4 linked regions of the Homo sapiens genome follow. The protein of the gene in region 1 interacts with the protein of each later gene in a pairwise test. Each region holds a gene or a part of one and is shown in the gene's direction. Other genes may lie near its edges. The genes, in order: BMAL1, DHTKD1, RORC and NPAS4.

Region 1 (7,959 bases):
ATGGTGTTTTGAAGAATCCATTTCAAATGATTTATAAAATGATGACTACTTACGAGTTTGTCTGCTATTTGCAGAAGAGGTTTGCATGCCACAGGGCAGGAAAAGGAAGTGGCCATGTTTTCAGATTTATCCCTTCACACCAACAATCTCTGTGGAATTTATATGCTAAAAGATGGAGAAGCACCATAGAAAGATTTGGCTGTATTAACAAAACTGCATATGAAAAGGTAAAAACTAGATAGTTAATATCTCTCTTTGGTGTAAGGGTTATAATGTATCTGAGCTTTCTTTGTGATTTCATCATCAACTCTCACTGTGGTAGGAAAATCAATATTAAATAAACAGTTTCAGCCCCGTGATTACATGCAGTGATTTTAGGAAGCATCATGATAACTAAAGTAGGTACTTGCAGGGAAGTAAAATATCCTTTCTAGACCTTGAGGTTTCGTTGGGAGCTAGGGACACAGGCATGTTATCCTTCTCCACAGTCTTTTTTCATTGTCACCTTATCACAAGACTCAGATTTATCCCAAATACCCACCTTGTCTTTTCTTCTCCCTCTCATGAAATAAGACCTGCTCTGACTCAACCCCCTCAGCATCTCTTACTTCCCACCCAAAATGTCCTGTCTCTATCCCCATCGTCCCCTCATCTCCTCCCAATTCAGAGAAAGCAAGTGGACCTCTCCTCTGTTCCTTTTCTTGGCCTCTCACCATGGGCAAGTGCCTGGGCTCTGGTGGCAGAAGAATCCATGGCTCAGGTTTGGGCTTTGTGGTCTTGGATGTGTGCTTGACTCCTCTGACCTCAGGTTTCTCCTCTTGGTGTAATGGCAGTGCCTGCCTCGTGGAGTCTGTGTGAGGATTAAGGGAGATGGTGCATGTAAAAGGCCTGGCACACAGGAAGCCTTTCCTTTGTGCCAGCTGCCATTCCTTCTCACCTCTACCCGGGTCCTATCACTAGAATATTATTTGTGCTGTTTGTCCTTAGTCTCCCCTGCCCCACCCTGAAAACCTTAGGCTTGACTTAGGAGAGGAAGGATGGAAGAGGCAGAGTCAGACTTGTGGTGAGCCTGCTGTGTACCAGGCAATTTACATGTGTCTTTACTTGGTACCCTGGGTTCGTAAGCCTCTCTTTCCTCCCTCCTGCCAGCCTCCCCCACTCTCCCATCTCCTGCTCCATTCTTAGTACCTGCCCTCTGGCTTCTCTCGCTACCACCTTTCTTTATATTTCTTCTCAAAGTTTTCTCCAAAACTTTGTCGTGAGTTCCTGGGGCCCATCTGCCCATCCTTATTCCTGAGTGGTTGTTCTTGGCCCCTTTGCAGTATTTCTTTTATTTTTTTAAACATGGTCTCAGTCTTGCCTGGTTGGAGTGCAGTGGTGCAATCGTGGCTCACTGCAGCCTCCCAAGTCTCAGGTAATCCTCCTGCCTCAGCCTCCAGAGTAGCTGAGCCTACAGACACGTGCCATCACACCTGGCTCATTTTTGTATTTTTATTAGAGATGGAGTTTTGCCATGTTGCCCAGGCTGGTCTCAAACTCCTGGGCTCAAGTGACCCACCTGCACTGGCCTCCCAAAGTGCTGGGATTACAGGCGTGAGTCACTGTGCTCAGCCCCTTTGAAGCTTTTACCTCACTTGTTTTTTGTCCTTTGAAATCCTTTCCTCTCTCAGCCTTTGGGTCATGCTGGTTTCTTGATTCTCTTCCTGCACCCCTGTAAAGATAAATGTCTGTCCTAGCTTCTGCTATTCACACTGTCCGTGGCCTGGGGTCCCCTCTCTAGCCCTGACCTGTCTCTCCTGTGTTCTGCTAGCAGGTCCGTTGTGGACATGAATGGCAGCCTGTAATCTGCATTTGTGGTCTCGGAGTTACAGGTTTGCAGACTGCTTGCAAGCACTGTCACATTGAGTCCTCATGACACACTGGAGCCTACATCCCTTCATTCCCCAGGCTGTCCTAAAAGGCAGTTTGGTTGGGTAGTTTAGCATACAGACTCTGGAGCCAGATTTCACATCCTAAGTATTCCCTACTGGCTTCGTGACTTGTGGTCAATTTTCTTTTGCTCTCTATGCCTTGGTGTCCTCATCTATAAAACTGGGATCATAGTAGCCCCTACATCAGAGAGTTGAGGTGTGGATTAAATGAGTTAAAGCATTGGAAAAAGTGTGCCAGTCTATTCATGGCACATTGCAAACACTCAGTGAATGTTGCTGTCAGTCTTGCTGCTCTTCGTTGCCTTGCCGGGGTGCCTTGGCCTGGTTTGTAGTGGTCTCCACATTCAGCCTGCCTGTCTGCCAGACCTTGCCATGTGCCTGGACACTGTAGTCAAGCTGAGGGGCTGTCCATTCCCTGTACCAGCCCTTGGCCCAGTCCATCCCTCAATTTTCACGTGTCCAAATCCTCCTCTGCTTTTAGGACCCAGGGCCTTGGTCCTGCAGCACTATTTCTTCATTTTGTTTTCCTTCCTCCCCACACCTGGCAGCAATGTCCACATTGATTTTTCTCCAATTCTCTTAGGTTCTGCTGCATTCCATATTGTGTTGGGCTGTCTCTGAAAATATCTCACCTGCTCGCTCAGCCTGAGCATTCTGGGAGAAGTTTATCTTGCTTTTTCCAAAATGACAGGCACAGGGAGCCTTTAGGCCATGGTTGTCCAATGCACATTGATCTTGTGGAGGAGGAGATGGGATGGGGTGGGCACTCAGGGACGGAGCAGGTGGAGGGAACAGGATGCACACTGCATAGAGGTGGGGGTGCAACAGGGCCATAAGTGGACATGGCCGTAAGTACTTAGGTCTGCATGGAAGGAGGGTTTGAATTGGGGACTTAACCTCAGGGGGAGATAAGATTGGATAAGGTTTAGTCATCTTTGCTGCAGGGGAACGTTGAGTACTGGCATGTAATGGAGAGTGGTTTTTACCTTAGTATGTGCTGTCCTTTTAAATAGTGTAAACTAATTCTTTATCTAGCCTGGTTAAAGAAGGGGATGGCTGGTCTGCCTAATTTAATATTTGGCTATTGCTCTACCCACTGGGTTTTGTGCATATACTGAATGAAGCATTGGCTTGTATTTATTCCTTCAATCACTGTTTGAAATGTCTGACCTGGGCAAGTTAATTAGCTTCTCTGAGTGCAAAATAGGAATAATAATTATTACGATAATAGCAGCTAACATTTATTGAACACTTTCTATGTGCCAGCACATATGTGAGTCACCTTTGCTTATTAACTCATTTAAACCCCATAACAACTACATGAGGCAGGTACTATTATCCTTACTTCACAAATGAGGTGGTTTTATAAACTGCCCAAGGTCACTCAGCTGTTATGGCTTGGGGCAGAATTTGTGCTGGTGAACTCCAGAGTCTGCCCTGTAACACCCTAGTAGATTCCTACTGGGAGGAAACACCCCGTTATATCCCTTACCTCACTCAGCCGCACCATGCCAGGAGCCTAGTAGGCTGACAGCAATTGGGAACCAGTCTTATTGTTGACAAACATGGTATGAGCCTCTTTTAGAGCGGAGCTGCCTGAAACCCTCCGCATAAGGGATGCGGACCTGGATGCTACCTGAGCAGCAGCTCCAGGGGCTTGTGAACATTCTCCTCACATCCTGTTATGCATGGCTGTCTCTCTGGCCTCCCCCTGCTTTCTCTGCAGCATTGCTCTGACCCAGGCCCCCTGTGGCTCAGCCAGCTCCTCCCCAGGCAGCTCCTTGTGTGAGATGAACCTTTTAACATAACTCACTAACCCCACCTCCCACCCTCATCTAGCCATCTGCAGAGCTCCTCACTGGGGAGGGGACCTTTTCAAAGGTCCCTCACCTTCGTCCTTTTCTCCCTGAAGACCAACGTCCACAACTTTGGTATATCCACAGTGTTGGGGTGTGTGTGTGTGTGTGTGTGTGTGTGTGTGTGTATATATATGTGTGTGTGTATATATATATATATGTGTATATATATATATGTGTGTATATATATATATGTGTATATATATATATGTGTGTATATATATATGTGTATATATATATATATGTGTGTGTATATATATATATATATATATATATATATATATTTTTTTTTTTAATGCCAGTTGTTCCCCAAATACATTTAGATAGTAAGGGACACATTGTTTTATGTCAAGAACCTGTTACATAAAAATGTGTTATATAATGTTCAAATATATACTGCACAGTGAAATTAGATACCACTTTTTTTTTTTCAAAGAATAAAAGGATAATAAACACAGGCCGTCCTGAATATAATTAACCTCAGATTTGGGAGGCATGGAAGGACGTGCCCTGCCCTCAGAGCTCTCGTCCTGAGCTCTGCCTTTCTTGAGTGCGCCGGGAGCAGGATGGATGGGAAGTTGGCCTGAATCTGCCATGGTGTGGTACTGTGAGATGCTCTGGAAATTGTCTTTTTTTTTTGGCGGGGGGTGGGGGATGCCTTCGCATCTTGCTCACTTGTATCTTTCTCACACCTAAGCAGAGGGAAGAAGCTCTTTTTGCCCCCTCGTACTTAGACCACCCAGGTCATCTTTTGACCAGTTTTCTGCTCTGCTCAACTCCTTTCAATCTTCCCAGATGACAGGCCAGCTTTGCCTGCTAAGAACAGCCCTGGTGCCAGTGGCATGCAGGTGGCACCCCTGTGTCCAGTCTTCCAGGCTCTCCAGGGTCTGGTCCTGTTCCTCCTCCCCAGCCCTGCTTCCCCGCTCAACCTCCATTCCCAGCCACAGCCCTGTGCCCGAGGTTCAGTCCTCCTTGCCTCTCCGCTGTCCTCCCTAGGCCACCTCACTTCACACTCTCCCTCTGGCTAGCGGGGTCTTTGCTTAAATTGTTCCCTTGAGGCCTCTCTTCCTTGCCCGTGCCTGCCTTGGATCTCACTTCTCTGTGAGGTACCTCTGATAACATTTGTTCCCTTTGTGTGTGCTCTCCCTTTTGCTCTTGATTGCCAACCATTCATTCGTTCAGAAGCAGGGGTATGTCATAATGAGCAAATTACCATATCATACTGAATCAGGATGGCCAGTTGTCTCATTTTTTAATTGTTTCATGGTTAATTATCTTACGCTCACTTCCCACTCTCCAGTTTCACTCAGTTACTCCGTCAGTGAAGTTTATTGGATGCCTAGCACTGTTGTGGGCACTGAGGATACAGCAGTGAACAAAACAAGGGGCCCGCAGGAGGGGACAGATGATGAATAGTGAAACACGTTCATGCCTTGTTGTGAGAAGTGCTAGGAGTGCTAGGATAGCAAGCAAATAGAGTAAAGCAGTAGCGATGAGGTATGGTGGGAGGGAGGGTACCTTATCTAGATCACAGGGGAGACCTCTCTGAGGAGGTGACATTTGAACTTAGCTTCAGAAAGATCTGGGGGAAAGTATCCCAGGAAGAGAGAACAGCACATGTAAAGGCCCTGGGGTTGAAAGGTGCTTGATATTTTTGAGGAAAGTAAAGGCTAGTGTGACTCGATTATGAGCTGCTTGTGTACAGATGTTTTCTGCCTCTTTTATACTCCCTTTAACCCTGAGCCCAGTGTTAGGAAGGCCTTGTAAATACTTACATACAGAATTATAGCATTTGTCATTGGTTATATATTATAAAATAGTAATTTTATAAAATAATAATTTATCATACCCTGCTTAGAAGGCTTTTAATAAAACATTATATTGCATATAAACAAATTAAGGGTTTGAAGGGTTTTCTTATAAATGCACTCCTAGCATGTTTCACCAAATATTACTGTTTTAATTGTGTTTAGTGCAGAACTTTAGACCTCATAATTCTGCTTCATGTGCACAACCATCTTAAAAACAGGTTTTGTTCCAAAAGTTTATTTGTAAGGCACTAGGTGGAAACTTGGGATAAATTTTTCTATAAGAAACAATGAAGTAAATAGTGATGTAGTTTCTAGGCGAGCCCTCAAAAGCTATTTAGTGGTGACTGTAGCTGAAAACATACTGGTTGGTATCAGCAGTCGTCAAGCCTTCTGCTGGTAGACCCTCCTCTCAGTAGCATTGTACCTCATTTGCTGTTAGCAATCATAGGACCCATTTACCTCAGTCACTTCTCCTACTGTATTTTCAGTCTGTTAAAGTTTTATAGAAGGGATTTTTTACCTTTATACCTTTAAGATTTGGTTGCATGTGTTATAAATGAGACAGTAGTGCAGAGAGTGGGGAAAACTCTGGACTGGGAGCTGGGAGAGGCCTGGGCTCCAGACTGGGCCCAGCCACTGACTGGCTGAGTAAATTTGAGTAAGTTATCCTCTTTGAACTTTGATTTCTCAGGTTCTTCTTGGCTGTAAAATCCTATTGTTTTCTCACCATAGCAGGGAAACGTAGATATACTTCGTTGTTCAAACCTGCCCTCAAATGGCTGCCTCTGATTTCTTCTTGAAGAAGTATATGGCACTCAGCAATGAGGAACTCAAGCAGTTCCCCATGTGCAGAGCTCTGCAGTGACATTCTCAGTAGGAACCTTGATTTTGATCTGCTATCTTTCTTGATGAGTTGAAAGAAATTTTGTCCCAGAACTTTTGGTCCAGATAAGATTTCTGTGTTCTTGGCCAACTTATCTTCCATATAATTATGTAAATTGTTTTTTCTTTTTAACTCTTAGGGATAAAAATGGTGACTCTGGCTTGCCTGCTTATAAAATATAGTTATAAGTGCCCTTAGGGAATGGAATGAGTTTGCAGGAGAGAGCAGAGCTGAAAGAGTGTGGGATCAAAAACAACTTTAAATGTTAAATGCAAAGCTATTTTCAGTACCCTGCTGGAAGAAAAAATTTTTTTCAAGGTTTTAGAGGATAGAAGAGGTTTTTGCTCCAAAGAAGAAAGGAACCTAAGGTTTTGCAGTGGTGAAAAGTACCTGATCCTTTAACCAACTACCACCCTCCCTTCCCACCTCTGAGTTTTGTTTTCGACATCATGAACCACATTTGCCATTTGAGAGGTTTGATATTTAAGTGACGTTAGTGGCAGAGCTCAACTGGCAGTGTTCAAATGACTTAGGTGCAGAGTGCTGTGCTGCAAACTTCCCCAGTGCATTCTAGGGTAAGGGATGCCTCATAGAGAGTGACAGAGCACTTTTAGCTCTGCCTCTATTTGGTCAGTTGTGAATGGTGTGTTCCTTTTTTTCCTTACTTGAAGGCATAGCGAGGAGTTGGTACAAGAAGTTATTGCTTCATGGACTTCACTTTGGAGCTAGAGGGTGGCATTAGACCTAGCCTGCCTTCTTGGATGCTGGAATACCAGTGGCAATGTCATCTCTTGTTCTCTGCTATACCCCTAGCAATGAAAACAGTGTCTGTACAGAAAAGTCTCTCAATAAATACTTGTTTATTCCTTCAAAAAGTGAATTCAGCTTTGGATAAATTTTTAATTTCCTCCACTCTCTAGCAGTATAGGCTTATGAGGTTGGTCTTGCAAGGTACTTTGGAGTTTAGGTTGCCATTTCTTTTTGACATCTGTGTTTTTCTTATTCTTCAGGTTGGTCAGGTATCAGTGTCTTTTACTGATGATGGTTGTCCCTGCCCTGCTGATGTTCATCTTCTGTTATCTTTAATTGGCTCCAAACTGCAGCAAATCTATAGCTGAGCCACATTAACTAAAAGAAAACTTGTTGCATATTTATTTAGGCATAGTACTACACATGTATTTATTCAGTCAACAAATATCTGTGAGTCTATATGCCAAGAATGTTACTAGACCCAAAGGAAGAGCAGAAATTGTTGTTGTGACCAAGGAGCCTGCAGTTTGATTGCCTTGTGGAACATCTTTATGAGCATTGTAGAAGGGAGGAGGCTTCATAGAACTGGTCAGGTTTTCACCTTTAAGGATGGTAGGATTTCGATTCACAGACAAGGTGAGGACAGGTATTTCCAGGAAGTGGCTGAGCGGAAACAGCATAATTAAAAACACAGAAGTAGGAATGGACCAGTTTGCATTCATGGACAC
Region 2 (7,576 bases), on another chromosome or scaffold:
TGTCGCCCAGGCTGGAGTACAGCAGCACGATCTCGGCTCACTGCAAGCTCCACCTCCCGGGTTTACGCCATTCTCCTGCCTCAGCTTCCTGAGTAGCTGGGACTACAGGCGCCAACCACCACGCCCGGCTAATTTTTTTGTATTTTTTTAGTAGAGACGTGGTTTCACCATGTTAGCCAAGATGGTCTCAATCTCCTGACCTCGTGATCCGCCCGCCTCGGCCTCCCAAAGTGCTGAGATTACAGGCATGAGCCACCACGCCGGGCCTCACAATCTTTTCTTTCAATTATAGACAACGCTACAATGAATATGTACAAAATTGTGTGTGAATGTGTACATGAAAGTCTGTTCTTTGTATGAATTCCCAAAGGTGGAACTGCTGGGTCAAACAGAATGTATTTTATTAATTTTGTAAGATATTCACAGTCTGCCCTCTGTATAGTTCGTACCACTTTACATTTTTACCAACAATGTATGAGAGTACCTATTGCCCATACCTTTACCAACACAGCATGCTATCAAACTTTTAGAAACATTTTGAACTCTGCCAATCTACATCAAGTATTCTCACCTGAGGTCCACAGGCCTCAAGAAGGGGTTTCTCTCCCTGTAGTACCAAAGTCCACCTTCCATACAAAATCTCAGTTTCAAGCATCCCACTATCTGACCACCAGTTCACTCATTCTAGTGTCTGCACTTCAACTCTTTGCCTCTTGTTACCCTCAATCCACTGGTCCTATCAATTTTTCAGTGTCAACCTCCCTTTTGCTTGTCCCGTTACCCAGCCTAGTTTCTATGGCTCAATGCTGTGAACACTCCCTTGCCTAATGTCTTCATCAAACCTGCTAAGCAAAACCCCATACTTGGGTAAATTCATCTCCATTCTGCCCTGTACCTGCAAAGGGAGCTGAATATATCTGGAGAAAAACTCGCAACCATTCTGACTGGTCTTGAAGCCTCAGTGGGCTGTTGGCAACCCCCAAATCATGACTGTTCCCGATAAGTCCTCTTTCTCAGCCCATTGTCTCAAAATTTTTTCTTCCCTTTCAAACCTCCTCCCATATCTCCTCACTCCCTCTTTCAGCTGCTGATCTTGCTTTTTCACCAAAATTAGAAGCAGAAAAGAATTCCCATATCCTTCCATGATCAAATCTATCAATGCACATGAGTATGTATCTGATTCTTTGCTTTTCCTTCTTTTTTTTTTGAGATGGAGTTTCATTCTTGTTCCCCAGGCTAGAGTGCAATGGCAGGATCTCGGCTCACTGCAACCTCCACCTCCCGAGTTCAAGCGATTCTCCTGCCTCAACCTCCCGAGTAGCTGGGATTACAGGCGCCTGCCATAATGCCTGGCTAACTTTTTTGTATTTTTAGTAGAGGTGGGTTTTCACCATGTTGGCCAGGCTGGTCTCGAACTCCTGACCTCAGGTGATCCACCTGCCTCAGCCTCCCAAAGTGCTGGGATTACAGGCATGAGCCATCGCGCCTGGCCTCCTCTTCTTATATAAAATGTCCATGCCCCTGACTAAGATTATCTTTTCGTTCGTGGATCAACTTGAGGGACATTGATCCTGTAATTAACCCCTCCTTTCTACTCAAAGCTCTTTAGATTATCCAGTTATCCCATATCTATTCTTCACTGCCATCTCCTTGGTGTGCTCTTGTCTTTGTGCATTTGCCTAACTCCTCATGCCTCAAGATTCTGTTCTAATTTCCCTTCCACTTGCAGGTTCCCCTAACACACTCAGATCTCAGAAATTTTCTTTTCCCACAGCCCCACCCGTCCAAAGAGCTAGGTTCCCACAGGTTCACAACCAAGGAATAAAAAAGACAAGTCCGGCCAGGCGCGGTGGCTCACGCCTGTAATCCTAGCACTTTGGAAGCCTGAGGCAGGCTGATCACTTGAGGTCAGAAGCTCAAGACCAGCCTGGCCACCATGGTGAAAACCCTTATCTACTAAAAATACAAAAAAATTAGCCAGGGCTGGGCACGATGGCTCACGCCTGTAATCCCAGTACTTTGGGAGGCCGAGGTGGGTGGATCACCCGAGGTCAGGAGTTTGAGACCGTCCTGACCAACATGGAGAAACCCTGTCTCTACTAAAAATACAAAAATTTGCTGGGCATGGATGGCCGGGTGCAGTGGCTCACGTCTGTAATCCCAGCACTTTGGGAGGCCGAGGTGGGCGGATCACGAGGTCAGGAGATCGAGACCATCCTGGCTAACATGGTGAAACCTCATCTCTACTAAAAATACAAAAAATTAACTGGGTGTGGTGGTGGGCGCCTGTAGTCCCAGCTACTCGGGAGGCTGAGGCAGGAGAATGGCTGGAACCCGGAAGGCGGAGCTTGCAGTGAGCCGAGATCGCGCCATTGCACTCCAGCCTGGGCGATAGAGCGAGACTCTGTCTCAAAAGGAAAAAAAAAAAAAGATTAGCTGGGCGTGGTGGCGCATGCCTGTAATCACAGCTACTTGGGAGGCTAAGGCAGGAGAATCACTTGAACCTGGGAGGCGGAGGTTGCAGTGAGTGGAGATCTCGCCATTGCTCTCCAGCCTGGGCAACAAGAGAGAAACTCTGTCTCAAACAAACAAACAAACAAACAAAAACAACAGCAACAAAAATTAGCTGGGCGTGGTGGCAGGCGCCTGAAATCCCAGCTACTCGGGAGGCTGAGGCAGGGGAATTGCTTGAACCCGGGAGATGGAGGTTGCAGTGAGCCGAGATTGCCCTACTGCATTCCAGCCTGGGCGACAGAGCGAGACTCCGTCTCAAAAAAAAAAAAAAAAAAAAAAAAGGAAAAAAAAGACAAGCCCTTGCAAAACCAGGTCCAAACTAGCAAGATGGGGAGGCCACCAAAGTGTGGACCTAAGGGGTCCCAGCTACAGTAGCTGTGCTGGATGACGCTCCTGTGCTTGCAGGGGGCACTTACATGTGCCTACATTATATAATCTATCATCCTGTGTGCTGAGTTCTATCTACAGCTAGACTGGGAACTAAGGGCAGAAACTGTGCCTTATTAATCTTTGTAACCCAGCAGAGTGCTTTATGAGTGTACTGGTTGAATGAGTAAGAAGGAGGATGTCTTGGGCTTGTATGTATAATATTCCTAGGAGTTTGGGGTATAGCTGCACAGCTTACTGGAACGAAGGATGACTAACCAGGTAAGGATGCAGACTCTCTCTCCTACCATACTGGCAAAGTTAAAAGTAAGCCACAGAAAAAAAATCATTTGGGAAACTCACTCAGAGACAGACCAACTAATCGTTCATGTCCAGTTTCTTTTGACTCTTATCCCTTTCTTCCCTGCTCCCTTTACCCTATTTCCTTCTTTCTCTCTTAATGTTTTTTGTTTGTTTGTGAGACAGAGTCTCGCTCTGTCGCCCAGGCTGGAGTGCAGTGGGCACGATCTTGGCTCACTGCAACCTCTGCCTCCAGGGTTTAAGCGATTCTTCTGCCTCAGCCTCCCGAGTAGCTGGGACTACAGGCACCCGCCACCACACTCGGCTAATTTTTGTATTTTTAGTAGAGACGGGGTTTCACCATAGTAGCCATGATGGTCTCGAACTCCTGACTTCGTGATCCGCCCTCCTTGGCCTCCCAGAGGGCCTCCCAGAGTGTTGGGATTACAGGCATGAGCCACTGCAGCCTGTTTTGTTTTTTTTTTTTTGTTCGTTTGTTTGTTTGTTTTTGTTCTGTTTTTTTTGAGACGGAGTTTCGCTCTTGTTGCCCAGGCTGGAGTGCAATGGCGCCATCTCAACTCACCGCAACCTCCACCTCCCGGGTTCCAGCGATTTTCCTGTCTCAGCCTCCCGAGTAGCTGGGACCACAGGCACCCACCACTACGCCTGGCTAATTTTGTATTTTTAGTAGAGACGAGGTTTCTCCACGTTGGTAAGACTGGTCTCGAACCCCCGACCTCAGGTGATCCGCCCGCCTCGGCCTCCCAAAGTGCTGGGATTACAGGCGTGAACCACCGCGCCCGACCTAATTTTTGTATTTTTAGTAGAGATGGGTTTTCGCCATGTTGGACAGGTTGGTCTCAAACTCCTGACCTCAGATGATCCTCCCGCTGTGGCCCCCCAAAGTGTTAGGATTACAGGCGTGAGCCACCGCGCCCGGCCTCTGTTAATGTTTCTTAAGAAAACAAAAAAATTAGGGGTATTGATTTTGTAGCTGCGCTAAGTAACCTTTGCTTTTTGCGTCCCTTGGTCTCAGTCCTAGCCATTTCCTATCCACCCTGTGGCTAATTTGTCCTTTCTGTAACAGACACCCTAGACTGTGTCTATGCGGTTGGGCAGAGGCGTGATGGGTAAACACTCCTGGCGGGAGACTACAGGCGCTGCAGCTACATCCTGTTTCGTACTGGGAGCAGGTGCCGCCCCGCGGAACACTTACTTGCCCCGCCCTGCGGTGGAGCAGGGCGGTCTCAGCCGCCGGAACCGCCCTGGAAGCCCGCCCCAATCCTGGGCGTCGCTTCGCTGTGAGTGCCGCTGCCACGGATTGGCTTCCAGGGTCCGGCCCGTCGGCCAATCAGGCGCGGGGGCGTTGTCTGGGGGCGGGGCTCCGGCCGCCTCTGACGAGTCCCGGATTTACCAGGGCCGGTGGGATCCCCTCGGGCTCCCGCCTTAGCATGCTGGCCGGGACATCTGGTGAACATGGCCTCTGCTACTGCGGCAGCAGCACGACGGGGCCTCGGCCGGGCTCTCCCTCTCTTCTGGCGTGGCTACCAGACCGAGCGGGGCGTTTACGGCTACCGGCCGAGGAAGCCCGAGAGCCGCGAGCCCCAGGGCGCCCTGGAGCGCCCCCCAGGTCGGGGATGGGGCCCGGGCGGTGGGAGCGGGGGCTGGGACGCAGAAGCCTCCCCTGGCCGATTTGCGGTGGGGTGTCGGGGTCGGGGAACCGGCTGCCGGCCTGAACGCGCGGCCGGTGGGGAGGAGGGGGAGGTGAGGGGAGCAGAGGGTAGGTGTGGGTGCTCAGTGTTGGGGTCATCCCCCGTCCATCCTCTGTAACTGAGGATCTTTGAGGTCCACGCTTGGGTGGTCTTCCCATCTTGCTGGTCCGGACCTGGTTTCGGAAGGGCTTTTCTTTCCTTTGTTGGAAACGTGTGAGAAACTCTTTTTTTCTTTCTCTTTTTGTTTCCTTTTTTTTTTTTTTTTTTTTTTGAGACGGAGTCTCGCTCTGTGGCCCAGGCTGGAGTGCAGTGCTGCGACCACAGCTCCCTGCAGCCTCGAACTCCTGGGCTCAGGCTATCCTTCCACCTCAGCGTCCCGAGTAGCTGGGGACACAGAGGGATGACCACGCCCAGCTTTTTTTTTTTTTTTTTTTTTTTTTTCATTTTTAGTAGAGATGGGGTCCCACCATGTTGCCCAGGCTGGTCTTGAACTCTTGAGCTCAAGCTGATCCTGCAGCCTCGGCCTCCCAATGTGTTGGGATTACAGGCTGAGCCACTGCACCCAGCCTAGAAAACCAGCTCTTTAATGAGGCGGAGCTGTGGGAGAAGTAAAGTTTTAAGGTCTCCCAAGGATACATTTCCAGGACCATCTCTGAGGCTTCTTTTATGTGAGCAGGTGGGGGGGTCCAAGACTGCATTGCTTGGGAGAAGTGGGCAGTTAGTTCCAGTCTTGGAAGACAGCATGATATTTATTATGTATTTGTCTCCTTGTAGCTAGTCTGTTACTTTAATTTCAGAGTTTAACTCTTAACTCTGCTGAATTTGGAACTATGTGCTGGTGGGGTTTCTTTCTTTTCCTTTTAGCCACTCTATTGACACCTTGATATGTGCTGGTGGTTTTAATGAATTAACAGTCATGAATATCAGCTTTTGGAACTTCTGTTGCATGCTCATTTGCGAGACTAATTTTGAGTATTTGGTTTACGCTCCAAAATTATTGTATCATTATTTATCCTCACGGAGTAGAAGATAAGTACAGATTGCTTATTAGAGGAAAATCATTTGGCATCTTTGATCTGATCATTAGATTAATGTTGAAGATCCCCTTCGGCATCTGGGCACCTGACCTTGGAATGTTCCATCAATCACACACTAGAACTTCAATATTTTGCTCTTCACTTCGGAGGGCATTTAAAATAAACCTCATATCTCTGTCTCTCTCTCTTTTTTTAATCCTAAAATGGAGTCTGGCTTTGTCGCCCAGGCTGGAGTGCAGTGGCACGATCTTGGCTCACTGCAACCTCTGTCTTCTGGGTTCAAGCGATTGTCCTGCCCCAGTGTTCCGAGTAGCTGGGATTACAGGCACCTGCCACCATGCCCAGCTAATTTTTGTATTTTTAGTAGAGATGGGGTTTCACCATGTTGGCCAGGCTGGTCTTGAACTCCCGACCTGAAGTGATCCACTGGCCTTGGCCTCCTAAAGTGCTGGGATTACAGGCATGAGCCACCGTGCCTGGCCAAGAGGGAACCTCCTTTTTGCAGAGCCGAATTCCCCTTCCTGTCTACTTGCTCATTAGGGAGCTCCAACTTGACCTCATCTTTCTTCTTGGGCCTTCCTGAAAGTGACAAGATACAATGAACATACGCTCCTGAGCTACAGGCTTCAAGGGCATGTAGTCTGCCTCAGTCCTGTCCTACAGGACAAAAACCAAATGTTTTGTCCTGTAGCATAACACTGCCCATCAGCTTTCTAGGTGGAAATACCTGTGTCCTTGGTACCCATTGCCTGGCTGCTAATCCAATGCCATATATATTTTTAGGCTCTGTTAGGGCAGCAACCCACCTCTGGTACCAAATTCTGTATTAGATTGGAAGAGTTCAGGTGCTGTGATATACAAAGAGAAGGGATATCTTCTTTCCTTCCCCTTACGGTCATGACCCAGAAGTTGCATACATTGCTGCTACGTTCCCATTGTCCAAAACTTAGTCACATGGCCACCAGGTTATGGGGAAGGCTGGGAGGTGGCTCTTTGTTCTGGGTGGCCATATACTGGGCTCTCTATTACTATCAAAGAGAGGGTTCAGAATGGAAGTTAGGAATCGTAGCAGTCTCTGCCACAGAGGTATAGTAATCTGAGATGAGCAATCCACCTTTATCTTTTTCACCTCATATTTCACATCAAATCTTTTTAGTTTTTATTTTTTAAATTTTATTTATTAGGCCGGGCGCGGTGGCTCATGCCTGTAATCCCTGCACTTTGGGAGGCCGAGGTGGGCGGATCACCAGGTCAGGAGTTCAAAACTAGCCTGGCCAACATGGTGAAACCTCGTCTCTAGCAAAAATACAAAAATTAGCTGGGTGTGGTGCAGACGTGGGGCCAGGCACAGTGACTCACGCCTGTAATCCCCGCACTTTGGGAGGCCGAGACAGACAGATCACTTGAGACAGGGTCTTGCCATGTTGCCCAGGCTGGTCTCGAACTCCTGTCCTCAGGTGAAATGCTTGCCTCGGCCCCCTAAAGTGTTGGGATTATAGGCGCGAGCCACCGTGTCCAGCCCCAAATAATTTATACTTCCTAAGGAATGAAAAGAGGGTTCTATATACGCAATTTATTTGTGACATATAGTACATTTGCATTTTGTATGTGCAAACGTAACATTAATTATCAAGTATCTTTATATGT
Region 3 (7,959 bases), on another chromosome or scaffold:
GCGGAGGGAGGAGGCGGAGCAGGATAGGCCAGGCTGAGAAGTGCCCTTGCATGGGTAGGCGTAGGAGCTGGCTGAGATCAAGCCATGCCTTCCTTCTCCGGCCCCAGAGCACCTGGTGCAGAGCGTCTGCAAGTCCTACAGGGAGACATGCCAGCTGCGGCTGGAGGACCTGCTGCGGCAGCGCTCCAACATCTTCTCCCGGGAGGAAGTGACTGGCTACCAGAGGAAGGTGAGGCCAGGAGACCTGCAGGAAGGGAACGTATCCCACCCCCACCGGGAGAGTTCAGAGATGGCTACCTGCGCACGACTGGGTCCTGGGGCAGGGCGGGACATCACAGACACAGGCTGGCCAACAAGCATGTGCACACCTTTTATGTACAGTTGCGAATGTGTGTATCTGTCTACACCCCAGCAGATGGATGAGCGCTTTTCCTTAGTTCTTGCCTATTAAAATTGTACCTGGCCTTCATCCTACCTCCTCTACCATGCAGACCTTGGTGCACCCTCCTTCCTCCTCTTCCATCAACAATAACAATAATCAGAACCCTGATTACCATTTGTTAAACACCCCTTCTCTGCCAGGCATTGTGCTAAACGCTTTATGTAAATTATCCTCAGCCCCTACCACAACCAACCTATGAGGGTGGCATTTATTCCTACTTTTAACAGACAGAAACTGAGCCTAGAGGGGTTAATAGGTTTCCTCAAAGTCACAAAGTGGTGGAACCAAAGTCAAATTCAGATTCATCAGGCTCCAAAGTTTATGCTGCCTTTTCGATCACACTCTCATACCACCTGCTCTAAACACACTCGTTTGGCACTTCACATTTGCTTCTCCAGGTTATTGAGACCTTGGGCATAACCTTTGTGGGGGAAGGGGCAGCTGTATGTCCTGTTCACCTCAACGAGATATACCTTGTTGGAGGGCAAAGCTGTATCTCATACTTTTTGGATTCCCTCACAACAGCTAACTCGGTGTCAGCAGCCGGTAGGTGCTCAGTGTGTGGGACTCACTGGCAGGAATCTGTGCATTTGTGCTAAGACCAGGCTTTTGAAAATGCTAGTTGAGAACATAGGAGTTCAGAGCCTACCCCTTGCAGTTTATTAGGTGGGGCTCCAGGGCTCAGGAGGATCACAGGGCCACACAGAGCGCTACAGCGGGACCCTCCTCCCTCCCTGCAGTCCATGTGGGAGATGTGGGAACGGTGTGCCCACCACCTCACCGAGGCCATTCAGTACGTGGTGGAGTTCGCCAAGAGGCTCTCAGGCTTTATGGAGCTCTGCCAGAATGACCAGATTGTGCTTCTCAAAGCAGGTGCCCAGGGATGGGTGGGCAGGCCTGGGGACAAGGGGACAGAGCCAAGTGGAGGGAGGTGGCTTAAGGAAATCAGGGGGACAGAGTCAGATCCTGGCTTTGCTTGACACTGTCCCTGCATCTTCTCTCCCCACTGCCCAGGAGCAATGGAAGTGGTGCTGGTTAGGATGTGCCGGGCCTACAATGCTGACAACCGCACGGTCTTTTTTGAAGGCAAATACGGTGGCATGGAGCTGTTCCGAGCCTTGGGTGAGGGGCAGGGAGAAATGAGAGGGAAGATTCTGATGCCAACCCCAGGCAAAGCTTTGTGACCCAGGGCACCCTCTTTTCAGGGCGAATTGCCCCCTCTGCTCTAAACACAATAAGGGCGGTGTCCTCGGGCACCATCGCTCCAGCCACTCTCTCACTTTTCTCATTTCCACTCCATCAGGCTGCAGCGAGCTCATCAGCTCCATCTTTGACTTCTCCCACTCCCTAAGTGCCTTGCACTTTTCCGAGGATGAGATTGCCCTCTACACAGCCCTTGTTCTCATCAATGCCCGTGAGTGTTGCTGGGCTTGGGTGAAGGACATTCAGGTGGCAGGGGCATGGCAGATATTGAAGAAGAGTCTAGACCTTCAGATGTAGTTAAATCTGGGAAATTGCTTTAAATAGCAGAATGAGCCCTACTCAGTATTGCTATAAAATAAAATGAGTTAAAATAAAGATTCAGAGGACTCTCAGAGAGGGACAAGAGCAGCATAAGGTGGGGTTGTGGGAAGTGGGGAGAAATGAGGTTGAGAGGAAATGAGCCACTTTCCTGACAGAAATGTGTCTGATTGTTAGTCTATGGCAGTGATTTCATTGTAGCACACATCAGAATCACCTGGGGAGCTTTAAAAACTATTGCTGCCTGGGTCCCACTTCCAGAGATTCCAGTGTACATGTGCTCCATGACTTATGATGGGGTTATGTCCCAATAAACCTATCGTAAGTTGAAAATATGGTAAGTTGAAATTGCATTTAACACGCCTAACTTACTGAACACCATAGCTTAGCCTAGCCTACCTTAAATGTGCTCAGAATGCTTACATTAGCCTACAGTCTGGCAAAAGCATATAACACAAAGCCTATTTTATAATAAAGTGTTGAATAGCTCATGTAATTTATTGAATATGGTTCTAAAAGTGAACAGCAGGATGGTTGCATGGGTATTCAAAGTATGGTTTCTACTGAATGCAAGTGGCTTTCTCACCAACATAAAATCAAAAAATAGTAAGTCAACTCATCATAAGACTGGGACCATCTGTAATTGATAAGGGGTGCACTGAATTTTAACAGCCACCCCCAGGCCACCAAGATTAAGAATCACTGCTCTGTGTGAACTAATTTTAAGGCTGTATGCCTATAATAGGAAGACTCTGGATATCCTATCCACTCCCCTGGCATGGAGTAGCTGGGCTGAGCCAGATGAATACTAAATATTCAGAGAACCTAGGGAAGTGGGTCAAGCTGCTAACCTGAGTTTGCAGATCGAGACTATCAGTCTTCTGGCTCTGCCAGTGAGTGGACACCTAAATATGCCCTTCAAACTAGAAGATAAAAACTTTAAAGATGACTTCTGGATATTTTATAGAATCAGGGCAAAAGTTAGTCACAGATTGCTGCAAGCCCCCTGGTGCAGGCCTGGGCACCTTCAGGAAGGCCACCTCCTATCAGGAGCCCTTTTCGTACATGGGGGAGCTCTTTTCCAACTCTTGTTACCCCTATGACAGAATCCTAGTGCCTAGCATTGAATGAGCTATGTGGAATATCAGGTTACCAGGGAGAAGGTAGCTTGGAGTCAGGAGATCAGAAATTCTCATACCTTTCATCTCTTCCCAGTTTTCCTTGTAGACAGCTAGCCAAGCCCAACGTCCAGAGCTTACCATTATCAAACCAAGGCACACACATGCACGCGCTCAGCTTAGAAGACCTCTATCCAGCACAGATGTCCACAAAGATACACCCTTTTGTTGGGAGTTAATGTCCATGTTCTTTCTTGTTCTCATTACGGTCCCACCCCCTCCTCCAGATCGGCCAGGGCTCCAAGAGAAAAGGAAAGTAGAACAGCTGCAGTACAATCTGGAGCTGGCCTTTCATCATCATCTCTGCAAGACTCATCGCCAAAGCATCCTGGCAAAGGTAGGAGCAGTCCCTGGGGTAGAAGAGGCCAGGCCCATCGCTAGCTCTGTAACATCAGAGTTTGCGAGGGCCGGGGTCTGTGGGTACAGAGGAGGGAGTGCGGGAGTACCACTCTCTGTTAGAGAGCTTGCATCAGCAGTGGGAACTAAGGGAATGAACAGCTACTTCCACGTGCATAAAGACTGGAAAGTTAGAGGGCCTGGGATTGGGAGGGACCTCCAGGGAACAATTCAGTTTAATATAGCCAGCACTTACCCAGCACCTGCTTGTACAAGGCACTGTGGAAAGACACAGAGATTTGGTCGCTGCCCCCACCAAGAGATTTTAATCTGGTATGAAGAAGAGATCTGTGTATCACTAACTCTAACATAGAGTAGAATGTGGTATGTGATATAATAATAATGCAATTAACAGAGTGCTTTTGCTGACATGCTTTCTCATCCTCATGGCAACCCAGTCAATAGGACAGGTGTTCAAATCTCCCTGTGTAGCAGCCGGGCACAGTGGCTCACGCCTGTAATCCCAACACTTTGGGAGGCCAAGGCGGGTGGATCACCTGAGGTCAGGAGTTCGAGACCAGCCTGACTAACATGGTGAAACCCCATCTCTACTAAAAATAAAAAAAATTAGCCAGGCATGGTGGCAGGCGCCTGTAGACCCAGCTACTTGGGAGGCTGAGGCAGGATAATCGCTTGAAACCGGGAGGCAGATGTTGCAGTGAGCCAAGATTGTGCCATTGCACTCCAGCCTGGGCAACAAGAGCAAACTCTGTCTCAAAAAAAAAAAAAAAATCTCCTTGTAGCTATCAGGAGACTTCAGTGACTTAAATGCAAGATTGAATCCCAGTGCTCTTTGCGCTCTTTCTATCCCTGTGTCCCCTATGTATAACTATAATAAGTGACACCAGGAAAATGTTATGAGAGTATAAAACAGGGATTAAAAATAATTTGGGGGTAAAAGGAGTGGGTCATAAATACTTCCCAGGGAAGATGACATTTATACTAGGCCATGAATGATGTAAGATTTTAACAGGCATTCATGGGGGTGGGGCAGGCATTCCAGGCTTAGGGAACAATAGGAGCAAAACAAAAAAAATGAAAAAAAATCCTTTTCCTGAGGTTTAACCAAAAAAATGGATGAGATGAGTATGAGAGGCTGGGGATAATTGTTTTATGGGATTTGGGTGTGGGACTAGGGTACAATGAAGACCAAGAACAACAGGAGAAAAATAAGGAGGCAAAATAGTGTGTATGTGGAGAATCACTCATGGTACATCCTCACTAAAGTGTAAAATCAGGAGCTGGGATAGACTGGTGGGGCAGAAGAGCACCAGATGATCAGCCTGAAAATTAGGTCAGGGGCAAATCAGAGAGGACTTTCAATGCCATATAAGCGTTAAAGCTTTATTTCTAGGCCACAGGGAGCTCCAAAGGCTAGAAAAATGACACAATCAGAGCTGTCATTTAGGCAATTTACTTTGGAACCAGTATAAAGGAACCATTTATGTAATTATTCAAGCAGGCCTTTGCTATGTGCCAGGCACAGGGCTGGGTGTTAAGGATACAGCAATGACTTACACGGTCTGTGCTCTCAAGAACTTGAACTTTAATCTGCTACAGGATGGATTTGAAGGAGGAGAGACAGGAATCTGGGAGAGCAATTGGAAAGCACATCCGGTTGGATCTGCTTTCAAAATACATCACCTTCCCTACTATTACCACCACCCTGGCCCCTACCAGCTCTCAGCTTTCACTTGGACTTTAAGAGAGGCCTCCTAACTGAGCCCCTGTTCCACCCTCATCTGCCCTGTAGCAACCACACCTACTCCGCACCCACGGTAGCCCTTTTAAAAATGCAATCTCATCATGCCCTACTCCTGTGGTTTTTTTCTTGTTTTTGTTGTTGTTGTTTGTTTGTTCTGTTTGTTTGTTTTGAGGCAGACTTGCTCTGTCGCCCAGGCTGGAGTGCAGTGGTGTGATCTCGGCTCACTGCAACCTCCACCTCCCAGGTTCAAGCGATTGTCCTGCCTCAGCCTCCTGAGTAGCTTGGATTACAGGGATTACACGCCCGGCTAATTTTTGTATTTTTAGTAGAGACAGGGTTTCACCATGTTGGCCAGGCTGGTCTCGAACTCCTGACCTCAGGTGATCTGCCCACCTTGGCCTCCCAAAGTGTTGGGATTACAGGCGTGAACCACCACACCTGGCCTTGACTCCTGTTCTCAGCCCTCCTGTAGCTGCCTGTGATGCCGAGAATCAAATCTAGAGTCTGCGTCATGGTCAAGTGGCTCATAACATGATCCCTGCCTTCTTTTCTCACTTGATCTTCCACTGCCCCTTCAAACACCCATTGCAGCCACACTTGCTTCCTTGCTATTCCTCGAACACATCAAACCCAGTCGCAGGGCTTTTGTACCTGCTATTGTAGTCACCTGGAGGGTTCTTCCCCCAGTTTTCCAAATGGCTTACCCCATCTCTTCATTCGGGAGAGGTTTTTCCTGACCAGTAACCCCATACAAAAAGCTTTAGTTTTCTTTAAAGAACTTATTATCTGATACACTACATATTTATTTTCTGGGCCCCTCACCAGAATGTAAATTTAATCAAGGTACAGATTATACTTTATTGACTGATATATCTGATATATCACTAGAGGCCATCACAGTGCCTAGCTCAGATCCAGATGTGTTCTCAACAAATATTTGTTGAATGAATGAAGGAAGCTATTGCCATAGCCCAAAAAAGCTCAGAATAAAGCAGTGGTGAGGAAGAGAGAGAATCTAGGAGATATGAAGGGATCACACCCTGCTGCCTGCTTTTCTCTGACTGCCTCTTTCCAAGGAAACTAAGCTGGGGGAGGGAGGCAATGGCAGGCAAGAGACATTTTTAAGCCTCTTGGTTGTAGAGGAGACTGCAAGAGATAAATTGTTCTTTCAGCCTTGCTCCAGTGAGGTCTCCCTGCCTCCGTCTGCTCACTGGTTTCTGTGCCTTTTTCATCTCCCCTTTGGCTGAGTGCTGGCAGCATTGGTTTGCTACTTGCAGTGTTAGGTGCCTGCTTAGAAAGTCTGTTTAGTTCAAAGAGTTATTAAGCATGTGCCATGTGCTAAGCATTATGATAGGTACAGAGGAGACAGGGAAAGAGAGACCTCAGCCAAGGAGCTGAAATCTAGGGTGGGAAGGCAGACAAATTGGACCATTTTCCTGCAATGTAGTAAGTGCTACACAGAGGAAAGCCCAAAAGAAGGGCCCTTAATCCAGATGGGAGGCAGTTAGGGAAATAGTCTTAGGAGAGGTGACACTAGAGGGTAAGGATTAGTAATGGGAAGAGGGGAACAACATGCACAAAGGCAGAGGCATGTGACAGCATACAACAAGAGTCACAGACAATCACTCTTATAAAAGCAGGAAGTGCACATTAGAGTCTTTGACAAGGTTCATTCTAGAAGTATTGGGAACATAAATTGAGGGCTTCACCCAGAAAACATTCACCTGTGCCCCACCCACTCTCACTTCCCTCCAGTGTCCTGAACACACACGTACTTCTACCAGTGGGATTTGGCTGGTGCCAAAGTGCCAAGTACATAAGGGGAAGGCAAGGAGGGTTTGTCCTAGCCCAGGAAGAATGAGCGGACTTCTTTGCTCTGAGGAGAGCTGAAGTATTGACCCTCCCTTCCCCATTAACCCATATCCAGCTGCCACCCAAGGGGAAGCTTCGGAGCCTGTGTAGCCAGCATGTGGAAAGGCTGCAGATCTTCCAGCACCTCCACCCCATCGTGGTCCAAGCCGCTTTCCCTCCACTCTACAAGGAGCTCTTCAGCACTGAAACCGAGTCACCTGTGGGGCTGTCCAAGTGACCTGGAAGAGGGACTCCTTGCCTCTCCCTATGGCCTGCTGGCCCACCTCCCTGGACCCCGTTCCACCCTCACCCTTTTCCTTTCCCATGAACCCTGGAGGGTGGTCCCCACCAGCTCTTTGGAAGTGAGCAGATGCTGCGGCTGGCTTTCTGTCAGCAGGCCGGCCTGGCAGTGGGACAATCGCCAGAGGGTGGGGCTGGCAGAACACCATCTCCAGCCTCAGCTTTGACCTGTCTCATTTCCCATATTCCTTCACACCCAGCTTCTGGAAGGCATGGGGTGGCTGGGATTTAAGGACTTCTGGGGGACCAAGACATCCTCAAGAAAACAGGGGCATCCAGGGCTCCCTGGATGAATAGAATGCAATTCATTCAGAAGCTCAGAAGCTAAGAATAAGCCTTTGAAATACCTCATTGCATTTCCCTTTGGGCTTCGGCTTGGGGAGATGGATCAAGCTCAGAGACTGGCAGTGAGAGCCCAGAAGGACCTGTATAAAATGAATCTGGAGCTTTACATTTTCTGCCTCTGCCTTCCTCCCAGCTCAGCAAGGAAGTATTTGGGCACCCTACCCTTTACCTGGGGTCTAACCAAAAATGGATGGGATGAGGATGAGAGGCTGGAGATAATT
Region 4 (8,352 bases), about 53 Mb from region 1:
GGGAGCAGGAACTAGGGGTGAGGCTCAGCATTGCCAGACTTGCTGTGTGACTTTGATTAAGTCATTATCTATCTCTGAGCCTTTGTTTCACCATCTATCAAATGAGCATCATAATATCAGTCAAGGCTGGGTGTCGTGGCTCACACGTGTAATTCCAGCACTTTGGGAGGCCAAGGTGGGAGGATTGCTTGAGGTCAGGAGTTCAAGACCAGCCTGGGCAGAAAAAATTTTTTTAAATTATCTGGGTGTAGTAGTTTATGCCTGTAGTCCCAGCTACTCGAGATCCTGACACAGAAGATCATTTCAGCCCAGGAGTTTGAGGTGGCAGTGAGCTATGATCAGGCCACTGCACTCTAGTCTAGATGACAGAGCAAGACTGTATATAAATAACAATAATGATATCAGCCAGATTTGTCGTGAGAATGTGTCTAACAGGCCAGAGCAAATCTGAAGTCTTTTTGTCCCTCTGCTTCATAACGTTAAGTGGATTTGCACCCACTGCCCATGCCAACCTCAGCTGGCCATGCCCTTGCCTGCTGAGGGTAGCAGCAGCCTGCCAGAAAGGAAGGTGTCTCTCTCCAGGGTCAGATTCTTCATCTGTCTTTCCAAGCTCGAGCCCCAAGTGACCCCATTTCTGTAGCAAGCCAAGCACGGGAGGAAACAAGGAATCCCTTTCTTTCCACCATCCAGTCATTTGGCAACAAGCTACAGTTCACTTGAGAGAGTGATATGGCTGCAGTGGCTGGTGGCCAGGCTTTGGAGGAGGCCTTGGAGACTCAGGCTGGGAATAGAACTATGAAAAATGGGCTTCAGTGCTCCTCTGGAACATTAACCTATGGCCATAAGTTAAGTAGTTGCAGCTGTGGTCTCATTGGTAACTTGCAGCACCACCAATTGCATCAATGCATCTTTCTTGGACCATCTTGCCCACCTGTCTGGTCTGACCACTACTGCAAGCTTGCATCCTTTGGCATATTGTCATTTTCTCTGAAGCCCCATTCAGTGATTCATTCATTCATATTCTTTCTGTCTCTCCCCACTTCCCTTCCCTTCCTCCCCCTTTCTCTTTCTCATAGACACATTTGTCCAGAGCAAGACAAGATCACACTTTGACAGCCCTCTGTCAAGATCCTTGCTCCAAATCTCCAGACTAGCAGCCAGGAGTCTCCATGCTGTTCTGAAGAAGCAGATTCCTCACCCACCCTTCAACTCCTTCCCAGGAGGTAATCCTCCTCCAAATCTCTGGAAAAGATACACCTCCTCTTCTCTGATAAAGGCTGGGGGGTGATGCCCCTCCCCCAGTTTCCCAATAAAGCTATGCAAGACAGGAGCAAGGGATCTCACGGCCTGTTTTTGCTACAAAAACCCTTTTTCGGAAAAAATAATAAAGAAAGGAATCAGCCAATCCCTCCTCGATGCCATCACCTCTTCTCGGTGATTTTTCGGGGAAGGAGTGGGTGGGTTGCTATGGCAACAGATGCGAGCTCGTCTCAGTAAAGAAGGGACCTTGATATTTTTTTCTCTCTCTCATTCTCTCAGTTGTGTGTGTGTGCGTGCATGTGTATGTGCGCCTGTGTGTGTGTGCATGCGCGCTACACATGCCTGTGCCCACACCAGGAATTTTTTTTTTTTAGAACTAAAGAAAGCCCTTCTCTTCTCTCAGCTCTCCAAATATGGAGTGATGGAAAACCACTTACTCCTGCAGGCCAGGGAGAATTCAGGATGATTCAAGAGAAAAGGGAGAGGTCATGTGGGGCTCCTTTCCTCCATGTTTTTACTAGAGATTGCATGCAACAAGAGAGCTTTGCAAATGGTTAGGGGGCCTTTGGAAAGAGGAGAAGATGTTAGGTGGAAAGAGGTGAGCAAGATATAGATGGTGCAGGAACTCAACGGGTGACCTCAGAGAGGGCAACAGAAGCTATATTGAGTCTGGGGACGCATGTACATCCCACCACACCATCAGATGCTGAAAGACCCAGAGCAGACTCAGATATGGACACAAACACAGACACTGACAGAAAGGCATATGGAAAATTGTAGACATAAATACACACAGGCACAAACATAGAACTGCACAGAACATAGGAAGTTGGAGACAAAAAAAAAAGACAAGCATAGATGCAGGCATAGGTAAACATAGATATACAGGGGTACAGACTCGCAGCTACAAAGACACATGCAAACAGATAGAGATGTAGACATCCAACCACCTCCAGACAGGTTTGGAGGCAGACACACAGGACACACAAACACAGTCTCAGTCAAATGAACACACACACACACAAACACACAGACACACACACAGAGTCTGGCTCTTTTCCTTCAATTGCCCAAGCATCCTTGAGCAGTAGTGCATAGCTGAGGATGCTGCACGCTTGCCCAGTAGGTTTGGCTGAGAGGCTTGCTCTCCCATTCCTTCTACACGCTCACCCCAAAGCCCCTCTCCCAATTCACTCCCTTGCCCACTTTCCCACAGCCAGCAGGCTCTGATGCCTCCCCCATCTCAGGCTTCTAATTCTTAGCTTGTTCTGCTGCTGCCTGCCACTTGGGGGAGAGAGTGGGGTGACTCAGCCAGGCCAGGATGACTCACACTGCCAGTATTTTTAGCAGCGGCCAGGAGCTCTCTAGTGTGCCAGCCGCCCCCCTCCTCCTGCTTGCTATTTCGGAACCGTCACTGGTGATATAAATAGCTCCTCTCCCACGGCCTGAAGCTGCTGCCAAGCTATTTTTGGTTCTGCACAGTTAAAAATAGCTTCACGGAGGTGGGAGGCAAGGGGAGTGGGAGCTGGCCTAGGGAGAGGAGACATTGGGGCACACAGAGCTTCTCAACTTGAATCAGAGTGGGCGAACTAGGATGAGCCCTTCTCTACCCCCTCCCTTGTCCCTTTCTAGACCCTTCTTCCCTTCCAAAGTGTTTCTTCCCATTCCATTCTCCTGGAAAAAGCCAGGGGCTCTTCCCCTGAGCCCAGTTCTCCTCCCTTGCTTACTTCACCCTTAGAGCCCAGAAATCTTGGCCCCCTGCAAACCCTCCATATTCATTCACAGAGAATAAGGGGACAGTCAAAGAGTAGGCTCACTCTGAGGCCTGTGGGTACCCAAGCCCTACGTCGATGTCCCCGGCAAACCGTAGCATGACTTCCATGGTGACTCTTTCAGCACCACGGACAGCGGTCGGCGCAGTATTCCTTCACTGCAGATTCGCTCAGATTGCTGGAGGCCATGACACCCAGCCAGTAGACTCCTCTTATTGTGGAGGGGGACACTCAGAATGCCTCACAGGCAGCTTTAGCATCAGTGAATGAAGAACACAGGAACAACCCCCCTGGAATTTCATACGGAAGGGGATCCAAAGATCAAGGGATTGTTCAAATGGAAGATTGAGAGAGGGGTGGGTAGGTACATTAGAGGTCAGATTGAGAAGAAAGAAGCAACACAGACCCATGTCCAGGAGGAATCATCTCTCTGTCATCCAGGTCAATGGGGTTAGAGACAGTGGCAGACAGATAAGCGGACATCGTTCCCTCCACCTCAGCTGTGACACTGACCACAGGATGGCCCCAACCTCTGCCAAAATGCATAAGACACCAGAATAGGGTCTCCACACCTTGTACACCTCTTCTAAGACATACTTCTCCTCAGCCGCCTCTCCTCCCACTCTACCTCTCTTACTACCACCCCTTTCCATGAGGAGCGGAGAGTTCCCTGGCCCCAAATTGTCCTTTTTGATGTCAAAGTTCATCTCCATGCTTCCTGTGTGACTGGGACTTCCCAGTCCCACCCTCCAATTTTTAAGTGGCCTCATTTCCAGCCACTTAAGTGATTCCATGCGCACACAGCTACTCCATCAAACGAGATTTCAGATAAGAACATTCCCTAGCCCACTTGCTTCTTGCATTATTGAATCCCAGGATAAGAACGGCACATCCTCGCCCCTGTAGAGAGCAATCATCTGTGGTGAAAAGAGAAAAAAAGCGGGTGTGTGGGGGGGTGGGGATAGGGCAAAGGTGACAGGATATGAAAAGGATAGAAAAGGATATGAAAGGACAGAAAAAGAAACGAAGGTGGAAAGTGGAGAGCTGAAGGTGGAGAGGCAGAGCCAGGAGCCTTAGAGGCGCAAATGTGGAGAGGGGTGGAGGGAACCTGGCAAAAATACAGGGTCCCTGGTAGGTGCAGGGGTCATGGAGGGTCCGGCGCTGCCCCTTCGCTTCTCAGCTGCTCCCCCATCTTGCCCGCCTAGGCAGGGCGGGGAGCCCTCCGGAGCGGTGCGGAGGCAGCCAGGCCCCGCCCGCCGCAGCCGCGGCAGCCGCCGGAGGATTCCTGTCCTAATATGGAGCTGGGATTCCCCCGGCCCCGCCCCCGCCCCCGGCCCGCGGGGAGACAGAGGCTGGCAGCAGGGCGGGGGGAAGCGCTCGCTTGGGGGCCGGCAACGGGGGGAAGGGATGCCTAAGTGCAGACCCAGGTCCTCGCCGTGCCCCCACGTCCCTGCCTCAGTTTCCCCTTCAGTAAGGTTAATTAGCTGAGAGGGAAACCACGAATCACTGCAGACTACAGCGCTGATGTTGGTTTCTATTCTTGGCTGTGGGAAAACAGGATCAACGCCAAATTCAGCTGGTCCCTTTCCCACCGGACTCCCTTTCCACCCATCCTCGGGACTTAGACCCCCATGAACACCCCCTGATAAGCCGCCAAGGCCCGATTTGGGAAGCGGGGGCGGGAATTTGTTCTCTAAAAATGGCCAAGGGAATCCCAGGTTAAATAGTCCCCAGAGAGGAACCCCAGCAGTGACCTGTCCCACGGAGGCCAAGGAAAGTCCTCCTTCCCTGCATGTGAACGTGACCTTGTCTGTCAAGTAACGAGGGGGATTTGTAGACAACCCTGTTCTTCCCCATTCCCTCAACTCCTCAGAAAAATTAGTGTCAGTGCCGGCCCCTCTCTGCCCTCTGCGGACTCCTGCCGCGGGCTTCAGGCCGCCCTAAACCTGGCCCTGTCGCTTCCCTCAACTGAACGCATTCAGACGCCAGGGTCCCCACACTCCATTCAAGCTTTCCTAACGCAGCGCCTTCCTCTCCGCTCAGCTCCCGCCAGGCTTGGCCCCCTCCGCAGCCTCCTGCTCCCCCCTCGCCCGCCTCCCTCCCTCTCTCATTCTACGTCATGAGATGACGTCGGAAGCCGGGCGGGAGGAGGAGCCCCCCTCCCCAGTCAGCGGCTCCCGCTGCAGCTTGCTTAGCCCAGCCTCCCGCTCTCCCGCCCCCCCGGCTCTAAAACGAGCCCCCCACGCCTGGCAGGAGCTATATAAGGCGGCGTGAGGCAGGCGAGGGGGGCAGCGCAGCCGAGCGGAGCCCAGGAGAGCAGAGAGCGAGCCTGAGCGAGAGACGGGGAAGCACGGAGGAGGAAGCCGCCGGTGCGTCGGGACGGGAGCGCAGGTGCTCGGGCACCCGAGCTGGAGCTCCGCAGCCGCCGGTCATGTACCGCTCCACCAAGGGCGCCTCCAAGGCGCGCCGGGACCAGATCAACGCCGAGATCCGGAACCTCAAGGAGCTGCTGCCGCTGGCCGAAGCGGACAAGGTCCGGCTGTCCTACCTGCACATCATGAGCCTCGCCTGCATCTACACTCGCAAGGGCGTCTTCTTCGCTGGTGGTGAGCATGCTGGGGCTACCGCAGATCCGAGCTGCCAGGCGCCGGAGACCCTGGAGCTGAGGGAACCCGCTGGGGCTGTCGCATGTCTAGGGCAGCGTGCTGGCGAGCTGGGGAGATTCGGGACTCGGGAGATTCGGGACTTTCTACTTTTCCTCCTGAGCTCCCTCCAGACCTCACCTTAGTTCTGAATGAGAGTTAGAGAGCCTGGACGGTGTCCCTAACACCAGATTATGAGAGGATAAGAGCCAGGACAGAGCGGCCTCGGTGCCCGCCAGTGCAGAAGCGCTCCGGGAGCCGGGGAGGGAAGCCCGGGAAGTTGCAGGGATGGAGCTGCCTGAGCCTAGGGGAACATAGCTACTGTCCGCGGTGCTGAAAGGGATCTCCTGTCGCCTTCGGGGCGCTGCCCATGGTGCTGACGGCTGCGCCGGCCGTGTATGGCTCTGTCCATGGTTCTGAACCCACAGTCGGCTTCGGAGCTCTGTCCGCGGTTCTGAAATTCAGAGCCGCTTTGGAGCTCTGTCCGCGGTTCTGAAATTAAGAGCCGAGAGGAGCCGACCCCGCTTTAGAAGTCGAGGGCTTGTGGGCTATGGAGATACAGCAACAGGTTCCCTGGCCAAGAGCTGCGGGCAGCGGGTCAACAGGTGTTTGCAGAGGCAGGTCCATGAGAAATTCCTCTGGATTCTCTGAAACTCAGACCATGCCTTCCTCACTTCTTCTCTGCCTCCCAGTCTTACTCCTGACGCACTACGTCTTCTCGCCCTACAGGCACTCCTCTGGCGGGCCCCACGGGGCTTCTCTCAGCTCAAGAGCTTGAGGACATCGTAGCGGCACTACCCGGCTTTCTGCTTGTGTTCACAGCCGAGGGGAAATTGCTCTACCTGTCTGAGAGTGTGAGCGAGCATCTGGGCCACTCCATGGTGAGTGCTAAGGGTCCTTTCAGCTGAGGCTGGGCATGGAGTGGGTGCCGTGAGCCTTCCACTCCTGAGGAACTGGGAATTACTATGGAGGGAGAGGTTATACCCTACAAGATACTGTAGATCAAAGATTGGCTCCTGCTGTTCTCCCTAATGGTCATCTCTTCTTTTCCTCCCTCCAGGTGGACCTGGTTGCCCAGGGTGACAGCATCTACGACATCATTGACCCAGCTGACCACCTCACTGTGCGCCAGCAACTCACCCTGCCCTCTGCCCTGGACACTGGTAAGGACTCCCTTCTCCCTTCCTCGGTCCAATTTCCCACCTGCTGCCCTTCTCCCCACCATCCACTGTCTCTCTCTCAGCCACTCACCCTCTTATCTGTTTTTCTCTTCATCTATCTAGATCGCCTCTTCCGCTGCCGCTTCAACACCTCCAAGTCCCTCAGGCGCCAGAGTGCAGGCAACAAACTCGTGCTTATTCGAGGCCGATTCCATGCTCACCCACCTGGAGCCTACTGGGCAGGAAATCCCGTGTTCACAGCTTTCTGTGCCCCTCTGGAGCCGAGACCCCGCCCAGGTCCTGGCCCTGGCCCTGGCCCTGCCTCGCTCTTCCTGGCCATGTTCCAGAGCCGCCATGCTAAAGACCTGGCTCTACTGGACATCTCCGAGAGGTAAGCCTGGAGTGTTCAGATTCCAAGAGAAAGGCAGGCCAGAGATGAAGGGACCCTAGATTCTGGAGTCAGGGGCAGGGAGGATGGGGTTTAGGGGGGCAGAGGATCTGGGAGGGAGTGAGATGCATGGGTATCAAGCAAGGAAAACAGAAAGCTGACCTCACCCTTTCCACCTTCCCAGTGTCCTAATCTACCTGGGCTTTGAGCGCAGTGAACTGCTTTGTAAATCATGGTATGGACTGCTGCACCCCGAGGACCTGGCCCACGCTTCTGCTCAACACTACCGCCTGTGTGAGTGTCCAGAGAGGCTGGGGACAAGATAGCAAGCTGGGAAAGGGCATGGGAGACCAGACAAAGAATGATCTGTAGTCAAGAGTGATGCTGGGGAGATAACAGAGGCCAACAGTTTCGGATGCTATAGGGTGAACATGAAGGTGAGGATTCAAGGCAATAATCAAATCAGAACTGGGGGACTCTGAGTGGTGAGGTCAAGGTAGAGAGCTGAGTGGTTCAGGTGAGGGTAGTCAGAAGAGAGGATGTCACGGCTATCTCAATTCAGTGGAGAGGTGACCAAGGGTGGGGAGTAGGTAGAATTGCCTGGTGGACATCCTAACTCTGCATCTTCTTTCTCCCCAGTGGCTGAGAGTGGAGATATTCAGGCAGAGATGGTGGTGAGGCTACAGGCCAAGACTGGAGGCTGGGCATGGATTTACTGCCTGTTATACTCAGAAGGTCCAGAGGGACCCATTACTGCCAATAACTACCCAATCAGGTAAGCCACAAGCCAGGGGACTAGGGGGCAGCTGAGGTCGTCATGGAGGAGACACAAATCAGGGAACTGCTCTGGATATGGACGTCGGACCCTTACCAGCTGCCTCTTCTCTCCTCTCCAGTGACATGGAAGCCTGGAGCCTCCGCCAGCAGTTGAACTCTGAAGACACCCAGGCAGCTTATGTCCTGGGCACTCCGACCATGCTGCCCTCATTCCCTGAAAACATTCTTTCCCAGGAAGAGTGCTCCAGCACTAACCCACTCTTCACCGCAGCACTGGGGGCTCCCAGAAGCACCAGCTTCCCCAGTGCTCCTGAACTGAGTGTTGTCTCTGCATCAGAAGAGCTTCCCCGACC

What was found.
Region 2: the proteins of BMAL1 (region 1) and DHTKD1 interact in binary tests that used the Homo sapiens proteins (3 or more experiments, as listed by UniProt).
Region 3: the proteins of BMAL1 (region 1) and RORC interact in a two-hybrid assay, tested with the Homo sapiens proteins (one study listed by BioGRID).
Region 4: the proteins of BMAL1 (region 1) and NPAS4 interact in a two-hybrid assay, tested with the Homo sapiens proteins (one study listed by BioGRID).

What each region holds. Positions count from the first base shown.
Region 1 is NC_000011.10:13,280,197-13,288,155, forward strand, and holds part of BMAL1 (basic helix-loop-helix ARNT-like protein 1), read left to right. Parts: intron 1-7,959. UniProt on the Homo sapiens protein: Transcriptional activator which forms a core component of the circadian clock.
Region 2 is NC_000010.11:12,064,378-12,071,953, forward strand, and holds the start of DHTKD1 (2-oxoadipate dehydrogenase complex component E1), read left to right. Parts: upstream 1-4,576; 5' UTR 4,577-4,656; coding exon 4,657-4,810; intron 4,811-7,576. UniProt on the Homo sapiens protein: 2-oxoadipate dehydrogenase (E1a) component of the 2-oxoadipate dehydrogenase complex (OADHC). Participates in the first step, rate limiting for the overall conversion of 2-oxoadipate (alpha-ketoadipate) to glutaryl-CoA and CO(2) catalyzed by the whole OADHC.
Region 3 is NC_000001.11:151,806,844-151,814,802, reverse strand, and holds part of RORC (nuclear receptor ROR-gamma), read left to right. Parts: intron 1-107; coding exon 108-229; intron 230-1,100; coding exon of another isoform or gene 1,101-1,182; coding exon 1,183-1,315; intron 1,316-1,456; coding exon 1,457-1,564; intron 1,565-1,745; coding exon 1,746-1,856; intron 1,857-3,368; coding exon 3,369-3,478; intron 3,479-7,169; coding exon 7,170-7,331; 3' UTR 7,332-7,959. UniProt on the Homo sapiens protein: Nuclear receptor that binds DNA as a monomer to ROR response elements (RORE) containing a single core motif half-site 5'-AGGTCA-3' preceded by a short A-T-rich sequence.
Region 4 is NC_000011.10:66,415,717-66,424,068, forward strand, and holds the start of NPAS4 (neuronal PAS domain-containing protein 4), read left to right. Parts: upstream 1-5,463; coding exon 5,464-5,638; intron 5,639-6,403; coding exon 6,404-6,555; intron 6,556-6,734; coding exon 6,735-6,837; intron 6,838-6,957; coding exon 6,958-7,225; intron 7,226-7,406; coding exon 7,407-7,516; intron 7,517-7,523; exon of another isoform or gene 7,524-7,659; intron 7,660-7,861; coding exon 7,862-7,997; exon of another isoform or gene 7,998-8,118; coding exon 8,119-8,352. UniProt on the Homo sapiens protein: Transcription factor expressed in neurons of the brain that regulates the excitatory-inhibitory balance within neural circuits and is required for contextual memory in the hippocampus. Plays a key role in the structural and functional plasticity of neurons.